Linked DNA regions of Homo sapiens. The protein of the gene in region 1 interacts with the protein of each later gene in a pairwise test. Each region holds a gene or a part of one and is shown in the gene's direction. Other genes may lie near its edges.

What was found. Proteins that work in one complex are often made in the same cells at the same time.
Region 2: the proteins of MNAT1 (region 1) and FOXP1 interact in a two-hybrid assay, tested with the Homo sapiens proteins (one large-scale study listed by BioGRID and IntAct).
Region 3: the proteins of MNAT1 (region 1) and TRIM26 interact in a two-hybrid assay, tested with the Homo sapiens proteins (one large-scale study listed by BioGRID and IntAct).
Region 4: the proteins of MNAT1 (region 1) and TRIM9 interact in a two-hybrid assay, tested with the Homo sapiens proteins (one large-scale study listed by BioGRID and IntAct).

Annotation. Positions count from the first base shown.
Region 1 is NC_000014.9:60,793,761-60,797,260, forward strand, and holds part of MNAT1 (CDK-activating kinase assembly factor MAT1), read left to right. Parts: intron 1-2,456; coding exon 2,457-2,609; intron 2,610-3,500.
Region 2 is NC_000003.12:71,573,729-71,577,228, reverse strand, and holds part of FOXP1 (forkhead box protein P1), read left to right. Parts: intron 1-3,500. UniProt on the Homo sapiens protein: Transcriptional repressor. Can act with CTBP1 to synergistically repress transcription but CTPBP1 is not essential. Plays an important role in the specification and differentiation of lung epithelium.
Region 3 is NC_000006.12:30,199,907-30,203,406, reverse strand, and holds part of TRIM26 (tripartite motif-containing protein 26), read left to right. Parts: intron 1-2,268; 5' UTR 2,269-2,372; intron 2,373-3,500.
Region 4 is NC_000014.9:50,980,106-50,983,605, reverse strand, and holds part of TRIM9 (E3 ubiquitin-protein ligase TRIM9), read left to right. Parts: exon of another isoform or gene 1-184; coding exon 185-226; exon of another isoform or gene 227-324; intron 325-640; coding exon 641-664; intron 665-1,106; exon of another isoform or gene 1,107-1,283; intron 1,284-1,502; coding exon 1,503-1,806; intron 1,807-3,500. UniProt on the Homo sapiens protein: E3 ubiquitin-protein ligase which ubiquitinates itself in cooperation with an E2 enzyme UBE2D2/UBC4 and serves as a targeting signal for proteasomal degradation.

The DNA of each region.
Region 1 (3,500 bases):
TAGCATATTACCCGTGGGAAGTGAGATACAGAACACAATGAAGTAGAACTTTGAGTTATTTTTCTATATAATTCTATATTTTATAAGCTTTAAAGAAAAAATATTCTTTTCACAGTTAAAATTAGAAATGGAAAATGTTACGTAGGAAAATAAACTGCAATAAAAAATTTTAATACTATTTAAATTATTATGACAAGGCAGATTATAAAAAGTGGAGATGTACAACTGATTTTGGAAACAATATATTATGTCTAATATACAATATAACGTTTAGAAATATTAATGTTCTATATTACCTTGCTGACTAAACTATTGATTGAGTCTAATCTCCAAGACCTTGAGATATATTAATGTTATTTGTGGCTCTGTAATTTTGACTATTTTGGATAGATGCTTACTTATAAATATCTTTAGTTAGTATAGTTGTAAAGTTTGCCTGTTTTCACCTTCCATGGATGGGTTTAATTTCCTCTAACCACAAAGAATAGTGAAAATGCACCACTCTGAAACTTCCTAAGTCCAGAGTGGTTTATCTGGGGTTTAGTTGATCTTGCTAATGACACTATGATCTTTGGAATTTTTCCCTGTTATTTTTTAGTGACACTATTAAGATAGAAATATAGGCCAGGAGTGGTGGCTCATGCCTATAATCCCAGAACCTTGGGAGGTCAAGGCAGGAGGATCGCTTGAGCCCAGGAGTTCGAGACCAGCCTGAGCAACATGGGGAGTCCCAGTCTCTACAAAAAAATAAAAAAATTAGCAGAGCGTGACAGTGTGTGCTTGTTATCCCAGCTACTGAGGAGCCTGATGTAGGACGATTGCCTGAATCTGGGAGGGCAAGGCTGCAGAGAGCTGTGACAACTTCACTGCATTCTCAAAAAAAAAAAAAAAAAAAAAAAAATATATATATATATATATAAAATAGGTATATATATACATATGTGTGTATATATATGTCTGTGTGTGTATGTATATATTTAAAGATCAATGTTAGTATTTTACTAATAACCTTAAAAATTCTTATTTTTCTTATTACTTTTCTTATTTAGCTTATTCTGTAAGTTAAATACACACTTGGAAGAAATCAACTCTTCCCTATTCATTAGAATTTCTCTTTTTCCCTTTGTCTTGTATTCATTTTTTTGTTTTGTGAAGTTTACTTAGTGAGTACTTAGCGTTAGGCACTGCGGATAGAGAACAAGATAGGCAACATTCTGTCTTTATGAAATATACTGTACTTCCTTGTCTAGGAGACAGAACACAGAAATAAATAAGATGATGTCAGATATTGCCAACAAAAGGAGTGATTAGGACTGTGTGGTCCTAACACATATGGAATTGGGCAAGATTACACCTGGAGGACTACAAATGTTTAAATATTTATCAAAACATTCGAATATTTAAAAGTTATAAATCAAGCCACATCCTTGGCCCAGCCTGATTTCCTACACAGCATGTTGAGTTGCCAGCAGCCTATACCCTCAAGACTCAGAGGCTAAAGGAACTGCTCTCTCCTCCCATCCATCTTTGTAACCTGCCTGACTGAGTGGTAGTATGGATCTGTTGGGGTAGGGCAGGGATGATTGGGGTGGTACCTAGACCCATCTAAAACAGTATATTAACAGATCCCACCAAGTCCCCAGGAATCTGGTTATAGAGAGGTTTGCCTCTCCAGTTCATTGTTTTTTCAACTCAAGTCTTCTAGGAAGTTGTAAGCCCTTCTTAATGTTGCACTACCAGAAAAGGGGATGCAGGTATCTGGGAAACCTGGCTTGCCTGGGAATTCGGTTTGCTTTATTTGGGGCAACGAACTTTAACCGAATAAAGCTTTTATAAGCAGCCACTCTTTCTGGGATTTCTCATGGCAGAAGTTGTGTTCATTTTCTCCCTCACACATACTGGAGCGCTCAAAGTTCTTTATCCTCTGGCCAGTGAGGCCTCATTCAGCTAGCACCTCTTTCTTGTAATTGTCATTTGCTCAGTTGATTACTGAACTTTCAAAAGACATTCTTACAAGGAAAGGAAGAAAAAAACATCTGTTTTAGTGCTTGGGGTATATAGGGCTCTCTAAAGAGCAGGCCCCTGGCAGAGGCTTCTCTTGCCCAGGTCTATGGATGATATTGGGACTGGGGATGGAGGTGACCATACAGTAGCCTTTTACATGCTCTTTGACTTCTCCCTATCCTGCTCTTCTTCCTAGTCTCTCACTCAATTTGTTTTAATTTATAAATTTGTTTGATCTGTAAAACTAAACTGGTATCACTTGGGATACCTATATCTGAAAAGTAAGCTCCAAATGAAAAAGAACATTTTCCAGAAAGTTTTTTGGTAAGATTTTAAATAGAAGTGACTAGTTTTCAAGTCTCACTCTCCTTATCCCATAGGGGCAAACTATTCAGATGTGTTGTAGATTTGAACATTGGCTTAAATGTTATGTTTTATTTCTGTCCTTACAGCTGTGAAAGTTGTGTAGATTTACTGTTTGTGAGAGGAGCTGGAAACTGCCCTGAGTGTGGTACTCCACTCAGAAAGAGCAACTTCAGGGTACAACTCTTTGAAGATCCCACTGTTGACAAGGAGGTTGAGATCAGGAAAAAAGTGCTAAAGATGTAAGTATTCCTGCTCGAATGATTCAGTCAACAAAGAGGACTTTAACAATTATGTCAGTAATTGATTATTATTTGCTCATAAATGTGGACAGATTAGCAAGTAAATAACTATAAATTCATTTAAGTTCTTAGAGAACTGAGTAATATTATTTATCTTTGTTAAAGAAGAGCCTCTTGATTGATGGCTTCATTATTCATTTGTATTTATTCTTTGATTAATAAACATGTATTGAGTACCTACTATGTATTGAGTACCTACTATGTGTAAACACTACTATGTGTAAACATGTTATGCATGTTAAGCAGTAGTTATGAAGTGATGAGTAAAACAGCTATGAACTCTGTCCTCATGAGACTTACCATACAGTAGCATAGGATAGCAAAAAGACAAAAAAACAAGTAAACCAAAACAAATGTTATTTATTATAGATTGAGAATAGTGCTATATAGTTAGTGACTCAGTGTTGCTGTGGTCAATGATGTCAGGTGTGGGCAGAGGAGGTAACATTAAGTTGAAGTTTGAAGGCTATTAGAGAAAATTACGTGTTAGCTATAGTTTATTTTGGTATGTGTATTTTTGTGTATATAGATATACACACATGGGCATAGTAAATATATGTGTGTATATATGTATATATATACCTATATATTATTAATCTGTCTTTTTCATTTACAATTTAGGCTTTACTCTTTACTCTTTGTTAATAGTTTTGGGTTTCCTTTTATCTGTTATTATGAGAAATAATTGATATGTTTATTTTTATTTTTGGTGGTATACATTTCAACCCAGGTAACCAGTGTTTTAGCAGCATCTTTCTAGGTACATAACCAATAATACTTTATCAATCCGCCTAGCGGCTCTTTTATTGTTTGTATAACTTCTGCAAGGTA
Region 2 (3,500 bases), on another chromosome or scaffold:
GCATGGCAGTCAGGAAAGACAATTAGACAGTGTTCTTTGTTTCTTTAATAAATTATTCTTATTAATTACAGTCAGTTTGTGCTAAGGCATTTTTCAATCCTTGTTTAGAAGTCAGCTGCCATTCACAAGAAGGTTGTGCCAGAAGCTGTGTTCTTCGCACGCACTGTTGTTTTACCCAGTCGTGAAATCTATTGACCAGATTGGCTTGTGGATGTCTCTGCAAGGCTTGTTTTTCTTTTTGCAATGCCCTGATGCCAGTCTTTAATACATGCCCTGCCTTGTACACAACAGGTGTTTGTTCGGTAGTTATTTTATGGGACTTAGAGTGAGAAAAAAATGTTTCCTATCTAGCCAGCCGCTGTGAGAACGAGTGCCTGAAAGGGAGAACCTACCTAGTACCTGAACAGGTGTAAATGGGTGTTTCCTCATGACCCTCCCCAAGCTGTTTTATTTCAAAAGGAGGGGAGGGGGGCTCAGTTTAGTGCCATGAAATTTACAATTCAGTTGTAATAATTTAAGGTTATTGGTAGAGTGCAAAGGGCAGTGGGAGCTTTCTAGTGGTTTGGCCTTGATGCTTAAAGCTGCTCAGTTGTAGGGTTAAATTAGTTCCTTCAGTCTGAGTACTTAAAGTAACTAAATCGTAAACAAAATTTATATTCGATTCTGACAACTAATAATCTATTTAAATTATATTAAAGTATCTGGGCAAAAATTTAATTAAAGACAGAAGTACTGTCAAGCCCTGTAAATATCTTGACAGGTCTACTCAAATGGAACTGATATCACGAAATATTTACATATGTCTGCTGTGTTCGGGAACATCTCAGCAGTGCCTGTGCAAAGCTAATTGCACTTTCCTTCCAAATTGTATTTTTAATAAAATAGTTTTTTTTTTAAAAAGGAATATGAATACATACACAGTTGTGTTCCAGTGTTCTGTTTACTATTTACTTCTCTATACTCAGAATCATGTTGTGATGAGTGTATTTCCTCAAACTGCTGCTAATTCAGATAAATAGCTGAAATGGGATCATTGAATAGAAAGCCCATGTCATTCTGTTTGATTTCAACAGTTTGAAGATATCAGAGGCTAGCATGTTATAGGACAATTTACTGAGGGAAAAATGGATCTGAATGTGGGATTATTGGGCCTTGTTTATGTTCAATAGAATAGATTTGCTTAGGACAAACATTTTCTCTGAGTTTTATGTTTGGACATATATTTATTTATTACTTGTAAGTCAGGTGGACATCCACATTTTACCAGATGCTCTGATTTTAGCTAATTTTGTGATTCACTTTGTTTACTAGGACACTGAAGAATATTTCTAGCATCAAACTGAATTTCCGAGGTGTCCTTTCTCCCTCCCAGCTGTGCAATTGAGTCATAATGTGACTTTCTCTGCTCCAGGTTCCCTGCTTTTGAATTAGGGGTAATATTTTAACATATGTTCTTTGAGCTTAGGGATCCAATGATACAGGGCTTTGTTATTACTCACATTTTTAAAAGATATTCTTGGTGCTCTCAGGACAGTGACCGCAGCTTTTGTTGGGGGAGGGTGTGATGTGAGTTTTGCTTGAGTTTCTTTTGCCCTGGTGCCTACCTCCTGATGACCAGTGGCACTGGTGGCTTCCCCTCCTGGGGGTGAGCACAGAGATGGAAGTGAATGCTCATGTCTGAAGTGAAGGGAGGTTGCAGTTGGTCCTAATTCAGCCTGGTTCAAAGTGAGGTCCTCGCTCACCTACCTCTGTATCTGTGTGTGTGTGTGTGTATGTGTGTGTGTGTAGGTTATTAAAATACAGATCCTTGAGTCAGAATTTTTGCTGATTGACATGGTAACGTACATTTATAACAAACTTCCCTTGATAATTCTGATGCATGCTAGAGACCTGTGAATCAAGTGATTTATTCTTTCAGATGTGTGGAACTGAAATCTCTATCTTCACTTGGATTTTACTGATGATTTCTTTGATTTTACCTTGAGGCCCATCCTGTGTTGTTTTTAATGTATTTGGATTTTTATTACGAATGAAAAACGGTGGTTTTTAACCAAGCACGAGTATTGGAATCACAGCAGAGCTGTTGTTCCCAACACAGACACAGTTGCACGACTCCTGGATGTGCCGTATCTGGGGTGGGGCCAGCATCTGTGTTTTTAAATCGCATCCCACATGGTCCTGATGCCCACCAAAGTGGGAAAACTGGACCTGTCAATTATCAGAGTTGGAGGAAAGCCTGCAACCCTTCTTAAGAGTTTAATTGAATTGGTTGGCCATTGTGAAACCTAAGAGAAGAAAACGGAGCTCCTTTTTCAGGAGGGCACAAAAAGAAACCTTGGAGACTTAGAGAAACAGAGGCAGAACAAGAGCCTCACAGTTCAATAACGTGATAGGAACAACCTGGAACATCGGTGGTTTTCACCAAATGTCAATATCAGATAATTTCCTTTTGAATTTTGTCTTGCCTGCATCCATGTTTCCCAATGGGTGTTGTCATGCTGTAGCTACCAATTAGTGTCAGATGACTCTCTAGAATTTTTTTTTCTGAGTATTCCATCTTAATTTTAAAATTGTAACTGTTTGCTCTTTGGATTAACCCTGCTGGCAGAAGTATTTTGATTTTCCCAAGCATCTTGGGAAATTCTCTATCGTATGTGATGGGGCATGCACGAATATTGATGGAAATAGCCTAGCCAACGATGCCACACAAATAAAGAAACCAGAATCCTAAGAAGAAGGCATCCTACAAGATTATGAAATAAAGGAAGATAAAATGTTAAGGAGGCTTATTTAAATATTCAGGGCTTCAACTAAAGATCTAACCACTAAGATCAAAAGAGTTATTTAAATAAAAGTTGTTGAGACATTTTTTCATCTGTATTAATAATGTGGCTTTTGAAGTTACCCGGTAATAATGTGTCCATAATGCCCACACCTAATTTTTAATTTCCATTTTGGCTTTAGGTGTGGCTTTATTTTAATAGCTGCCAAAAAGTTGGCAATTGTTTTTACGTTTAGAACTTCACAGTTTGCTTTTCTGTAGGTTTAGGTAGCATTGGGGATATTCGTCTAATAAAAACTTTTAAAATTTCTGTTCTGACCCTGAGGCACTTAAAAAAAACTCTTATGGGCCAAATTTTAAAAGTAGAGTGTCTCTACTACTGCATAAAGAATTTCTATAAAAGATGAAACATGGAGCTGATTGAAAGAATAGACGGCGCAATGGTAGAGGACACATAGTTACCACTGTCACTGGTAATCTACAGCTTGATGCGAAGTCATTCCGCCTTGTTTGTTGAAATGTTAATCATTTCATTAAGAAAGGTTAAGTAATTAACTGATATTTCATTAGGGAATCAATGACAGACCTTTTTTTAGTGATGTATGGTAGATATTTTCTAATAGAAAGTTTGCCCCATTTAATTATTTGGAAAGAAGCTAGTTGATTGAGCCTTGGGAAGGAGGGGTGGGGCATCTTCAGATAACATCTATGTCCATAA
Region 3 (3,500 bases), on another chromosome or scaffold:
AATAAGAAGTATAGGCATTCTCATACATAACCTCAGTAAATACCATTAAGAAAATAATTTTAGACATGGTGCAGTTGCTCATGCCTATAATCCCAGCACTTTGGGAGGCTGAGGTGGGAGGATGGCTTGAGCCTAGGAGTTTGAGACCAGCCTGGGCAATATAGTGGCAACTCTTCTCTACAAAAACCTTTAAAAATTAGCCAAGTGTGGTAGTATGCACCTGTTGTTGCAGCAACTCGGGAGCCTGAGATGAGAAGATTGCTTGAGCCAGGGAGGCCGAGGTTGCAGTGAGCCCAGATAGTTCCACTGCACTCTGGGGGACAGAGTAAGACCCTGTCTCAAAAAAAAAAAAAAAAAAAAGAAAGAGAGGAAATAATTTTTTAATATGATCTAACACCCAGCCTACTTACAAATTTCCCACAATAGTTCCAAGACTATTTTTATAACCTTTTTTTTCTTTTTACAGGATCCAATCAAGGTTCACGTATTGCATTTGGTTATTATTTCTCTTTAGTCTGTAAAAATCAAAAGCAGTTCTTTCGAAGGTTTTTTTTTATGACATTGACTTTTTAAAAGACTAGGCCAGTTGCCATGTGCAATGTCCAGCATTCTGGATTTATCTGGTTCTTTCCTTATGGTGTGGTTTAATTCCTCCATCGGTACTTTTTCAGTTATAACATACTTCAGAGTATTCCTTTCCTTTATATTTTTTATAAACTGGAAGTTAGATCTAAAGTCTTGACTAGATTCATTCAAGTCAAACATTTTTGGCACAAACACTTCATAGGTAATGTTGTGTGATTCATATAGTGCCATGCCAGAAAGCACATGCCACTTTGCCCCGTCTGCTGATGACGCTGGATTTGGTCACTTAGTTAAGATAACCACTGGATCTCTTCCTTATGAAGGTATGTCAGGAAGTAATCCATTCATTGGTGCTTTGGCACCATGGGTACTATCTCATCCCCCAAAACTTTTCACCTAATAGTTTTAGCATCTATTGATGATCCTTGTGCTATTATAATGGCAGTCGCAAAATGATTTTCTAATTCTGTTATCCCTCTTCTACTTATTTGCTGATTAATCTTACAGAAGGTTATTCTTCTGTAATCCCCAGACAATTTTAGGTATCTAGTACATATGCAATAATTTTTAGACAGTTTCAGGAGGTTTAGAGACCATCAAACCCCAGCATGGAGCCTGGGTGATGAGGTGTCCTGTTTTGCATGGAAGAAGAGCTGTAGCTGAGCTCTTCATAGTCCTTTTATTGTTCTTATTTTGCAAGTAAATTGCAAAATAAGTTCCCAACCCAAAGATAACACAGGCTATCCTTCAACAAAGAAAAACCTCAGCTTTTAAACTTCTAGGCCATTTGGCAAAGAGGCATGATAAAGGGCTTGAAAGCCCACAGACACGCCCAGTACCACTCCTTTTTCCTCTTTCCAAACACTTGCAGTATGTTACAACTGAAAAACTGCTGAGCCAGGCTTATTTCCTCAACAGTAAAGCCAAGGAGTTGGACCAGGCAATTCCTAGCATTTCTTTCTTTTTTTTTTTTTGAGATGGAGTCTCACTCTGTCACCCAGGCTGGAGTGCAATGGCACGATCTCGGCTCACTGCAACCTCTGCCTCCCGGGTTGAGGTGATTGATTCTCCTGCCTCAGCCTCCTGAGTAGCTGGGACTACAGGTGCATGCTACCACACCTGGATAATTTTTGTATTTTTAGTAGAGATGGGGTTTCACCGTGTTAGCCAGGATGGTCTCAATCTCCTGACATTGTGATTCACCTGCCTCGGCCTCCCAAAGTGTTGGGATTACAGGTGTGAGCCACCGTGCCCGGCCAATTCCTAGCATTTCTACCAGCATTACTAACATGTAGGAACTTGATATTACTTTCACTTGACAGTTAAATTCCTTGAATCCTTCATTTGAGCTTTGAAGGTGCTTGATTTTCCCCTCATTATGTCTCTTAAAGTCACACATACCTAGATCCATTAGTGCTTCCAGTTGGAATTTATTATCAGCACTATAAGAATCTCTTATATTTATGTAGTCCTTTTACGTTATAAAACACTTTTTATGTATTATTGTACTAGACCCTCAATGAGTGGACGTTATATCCCTGTTTTGTTTACTCTTGGGTCTTATAGACTGGGGGTTTTATTTCTGTCCCATTAATGTCACTACTGACAGAGGCCACTGAACTCTGTTGTGATGGACTTTCACCATACATAATCATTAATAGTATTGATTTGCCTGTAATTCAGGTTGCTTCATTCCAGCCTCGCAGTCACCTCTGTGCCCTGCTGGTTGTCTTCCCAGCGCTGCTGTAGTTGCCTTCCATGGATCTATAGGAGAGCAAGTCCTCCAGGTACTGCCCTGTGACGATGTTGTTGAACTCTGTAGCACGTGTGTCACTGTGGCTGGTTCTGCTCACTTCCTCTTTTGCTGCCACTTTTGAATTTAACTCTTTGTTTGTGGTTTGGACACTCACTGGATTTGGAAACCAGGGGTTGTGGGTTCTCTCCTAGATTTCCGTCTGTGTACCAGGCTTGTGCTTAGCACTTTTCCCATAATTCTTTCACATGACCTGCTTAGAAACCCTTAAAGGTAAGTATCACTCTTCCCATTTTACAGATGGATACACTGAGGCTCAGTACTTAAGTGACTTCTGTATTGTCACACAGAGTCAGGGGCAGGAGGCTGCTCTTGGGTTAGATGTGCTGAGGCTCATAACCTCAGCCTGGAACTGGGTCAGGACTACAAAGGTAAACAGAAGCAGAGTCCTTTCTGTGTGTCCCCGCTCCCTGTACAAGCCAAGGCCTCACAGCACATAGCAGCCACAGCCACCTGAGGATTCCTGCCATCTAGACGAGGCAGTTACAGCCAAGAACAAGTCCACTGAGGCTAAGCTGTGCTCCTCTGGAGGGCTGTGTTTAGAGTCCAGCCTTCTAGGGGAAGCAAATTAAACCCAAACTATAGAACAGCCCAGGGAAATACTCACAAAGGGAAATGCTGACAGTCAGACTCCTGAAGCTTCCTGATGCTTCTCGAGTTTTGGTAAAGAACCTCAGTGCTGTTTGTTTGTTTGTTTTTTAATGTTTTCTGGTTTTTTGTTTGTTTTGAGACAGTCTCTTATTCTGTTGCCCAGTCTGGAGTGTAGTAGTACAATCATGGCTCACTGTAGCCTCCACCTCCCAGATTCAAGTAATCCTTCTGCCACAGCCTCCTCAGTAGCTGAGACTACAGATGCATGCTACTACACTGGGGTATTTTAAAAAATTTTTAAATTTTTTTAGTTGAGACAGGGTCTCACTATGTTGCTGAGGCTGGTTTCAAACTCCTCGGTTCAAGTGATCCTCCTGCCTCAGCCACCCAAAGTGTTGGATTTACAGGGTGAGCCATGTCACATTGCCCTCTCTTAGTTCTTGAAACCTGAAACCTTGAGGAGCAAACAAAAGGGGTCTCTTGGCCAGGTGCAGTGGCTCACGCCTGTAAT
Region 4 (3,500 bases), 9.8 Mb from region 1:
CATTTTGAAAGAGCAGAGGGGCAGTTTTTTACCCAACAAACTAAATAATATAAAAAGGGCTTTGTTTTTTCATGGATCAGGCCTCTGGTATCTATATTCAACTGGTGCTTTTTAAGCGTATACAAGTAATTTTTATCAACCTGGTTGTTGTTTCATAGCGTTGATGTGTAGTATCTCTTTATAGGATGCAATTTTGAGACACAATCTGCACCTTACTCTCAATTAGGCAAGTATACCTATTGTAATTATCTTTTACTTACGTGATTGGTGTGCTCAATTTCCTTCACAAAATAAATGGCGGCAACTTGTCTTATGTCAATAAAATTGTCTAATTGTCATTCTAACCCTATTATAGCAGTTTCTCAAACTCTTAAAAAATGGAAAAGATGCCTGTAGTGTTTAATGTTATGCCTCAAACCTTACTTTTCCCCCAGTTTTCTTTTACATCAGTGCAAAGCACTCTTTATGAGCACTAAATGTGGGTAAAGGTACAAGTCAGAGAGCACCTGTTTAGTATATGTGGCATTTTAAATTGAGTCCTTTTGGGGTACTAGTCTATCAAGAGAGACACATTTTCTTATCCATGTCAATTTTGCTTCCTATCTCTCTCCCCCATGCCTTTCACTTGGAATGACAACAGTTGACATTAAAAAGCTGTTGGCAGGTATGGAATAACCTTATTCTGTTACCAAATAGCAAAGACCAAAGTGCATGTGAGGTGTCTCACAGGTTTAATAAATCAGCAATTACATCTCTCGAGTGTGATATTTATAGGTGGCATTTAGAACTTGGGGCGTAACAATGCGTACAAAGACATCATTCTATCTGCACCTAATGTCCGAAATTCCTACTGCTCCAGCAAAATTTCTGACGTGTTAGTTTCAGGAGTAGCACGCAAACTGTGTTTTTTAAGTTATGCAGACAGCAACCTGTCCTACATGCAAGTCACAATCACTCATGAAAATTAGTTTATGTTGCTTATAGCTTCGCAGCTTGTGAGCTTTCACTAGAGCCGAGGAAGACTTCAAAGCGACTAGATGTTAGCACTTCTGCCGAAGGGATATTTCCTGATTTCACTCCATGTGTTTTATCCCTCCTCCATCTAGGACTCTAGCTCCTAGCCTCCCCGCCTCAGGGGTTACACAGGCATCTTAGCGCATCCCCTCTCCCTTTATGTCTCTGGTGCACTGTTCTGCCAGTCACCAGGTGAAGGGACTTGCACCTTCCAAAATCGATGCCACTTCACTCCCGGATCACCTGGTTGGGAGTGCAGTCTGAGCCAGGTAACCCCTGCTGAATCGGTCGTGTGTCCTCCGTCTGCTTCTGGTGCAGAGAGTACCAACTCCCAGGACGTGCCCCTGTCTGCCCTGGCCCTGGACGCCTCCTTCCTGCATGGCAGCATGAAAACGCTACACAACGCTCCTCACCCGCCCAGGAGTATGTTATGGTGCTGAGCTTGTTGGGTCTGTCTTAATAACCTGATTCCCTTCTGTTGTTCCCAGTGGCCTGGTTTGCTTTCGACCCTGGCTCGGCGCACTCGGACATCATCCTCTCCAATGACAACCTGACAGTGACCTGTAGTAGCTATGATGACCGGGTGGTGCTAGGGAAGACTGGCTTCTCCAAGGGCATCCACTACTGGGAGCTCACGGTAGATCGCTATGACAACCACCCTGATCCTGCCTTTGGTGTGGCTCGCATGGACGTGATGAAGGATGTGATGTTAGGAAAAGACGACAAAGCTTGGGCAATGTATGTGGACAATAACCGGAGCTGGTTCATGCACAACAACTCGCACACCAACAGGTACCCTGCAGCCCCCAAACCAAGCCTTCTTCACGTTGGCTTCTGATCAGGAGTGAGAGCCCCAGTTCAAAAACCTATTACATAGACCACATTCAGGAAATCAAACAGGTGGTCTACATTAAGTAGCACAGGCAATCTATGAGCCTCAGCTGAGTCCATGCTGGTGGTTTACTTTCTATATAATGATAGAGACTTGAGTACTTTCCTACTCCCTTCATTGCTGTATTTCACCCATGGCTGGAAACTAAGAATCCCAATGGATATCCATTATAAGAAAACAATCCAGGATGCTGAAACACCCAGACCTACAACTTAACAGAAAAGCACTTTTGGGCAAGTTACTTCGTTTTTTGAACCTCAGTTTCCAAATCCATCAAATTAGTACAATAAAATTTTTCCTTGTGGGAATCTTCTGAAGATTAAATGAAATATGTGAAAATGCCTTACATTGGAAGCACCTGAAAATAGTAGCCATTCTTCTTATTACGATTCATTAAACTAAAGCTTATGGATGCCAATTTGAATGGCTTTCTACTTATAGAGAACTCTCTTATTACTGTATTAATCCAGAGCAGCCAGTTTGCTAAGGAAAGGAAATACAGTAATCTCCTTGAGGTTTTCTTCTACCACCAAAATATAGATCATTATAATTGAACACATACTATAATGGATTTCCTTTCTCATTTGATTGTGTTCCTCAAATGTATTTTTCACAAATTTCCTAGGCAGAGAAATTTCTACTGTGGACCCTGGTCCACCTTATGCTCCAAGATTTCCCCAGGATACATTCTCATTAGTGTCTCTGAAAAAAAAAAAAAATACAGTAGTGTTCAACCAGATCAAAGGGAAAGCAAGTCAGACATTGGTAGGATAATTGGACCCCACTGTTTTATCTTTTTCTGTATGCTCATCACTGACCCTTCTCCAGCCTGTAGACTCCTAAAGCCTCCTTTTCCCTTGGATAGCTTCTATAGCATTCAAGTGTGTATTATTCGCTGTCACTTGAAGTGAACACACACACCATTTCACCATGAAAGCAAATCCTACTGGATGTAGATAAGTGGTTATCTTCAGTGATCGGCATTTTGTGGAACTCTCTGTCAATAGATTCTCAGTGCTATCACCCAAATGCCACACTTACTTTTTCCCTTTTAGCGTCTTTGTTTTGAAGTGCAGGAGTGAATAATGACATAACCATCACACTATGCAGAGAAACACATTCTTAATGCTGAACACATCTGCTTGCATGCAACCTGCATGTCACTTGTGCTTTCATTGTTAAACCTGTGAAGTAGCAAGAGGCAATTTGTAAACCTGTCTTTTAATGACTATGTACAGTCTGTATCCTGCATGCAAGAGGAAATGAATGACACAAATTCCTGTGCTCTGCTGAGATGAGGACGAAGTTCAATATTGCTAGATCTCAAAAAAATGGGAAAGACAAATCTGATCGTCCATTTTTAATGGCATTTTGTGAAACCATCAATTGAAGCATAAGACACAATTCTTTGTAAAATGGCATTTGTATGCAGGTTCTTTAAAATCACTACATCTCAGAGTATAATTATTTCACTGTACAGAGAAGAAGCCTCTTCTTCAGTGCTGTCATTTCACAGACAGCCTCCAAGTTCTTAATTCAAATGCAACAAGCCAAAAAACTGCTATCCTTCTGGAATGAGTTTTTCTGTTTAATG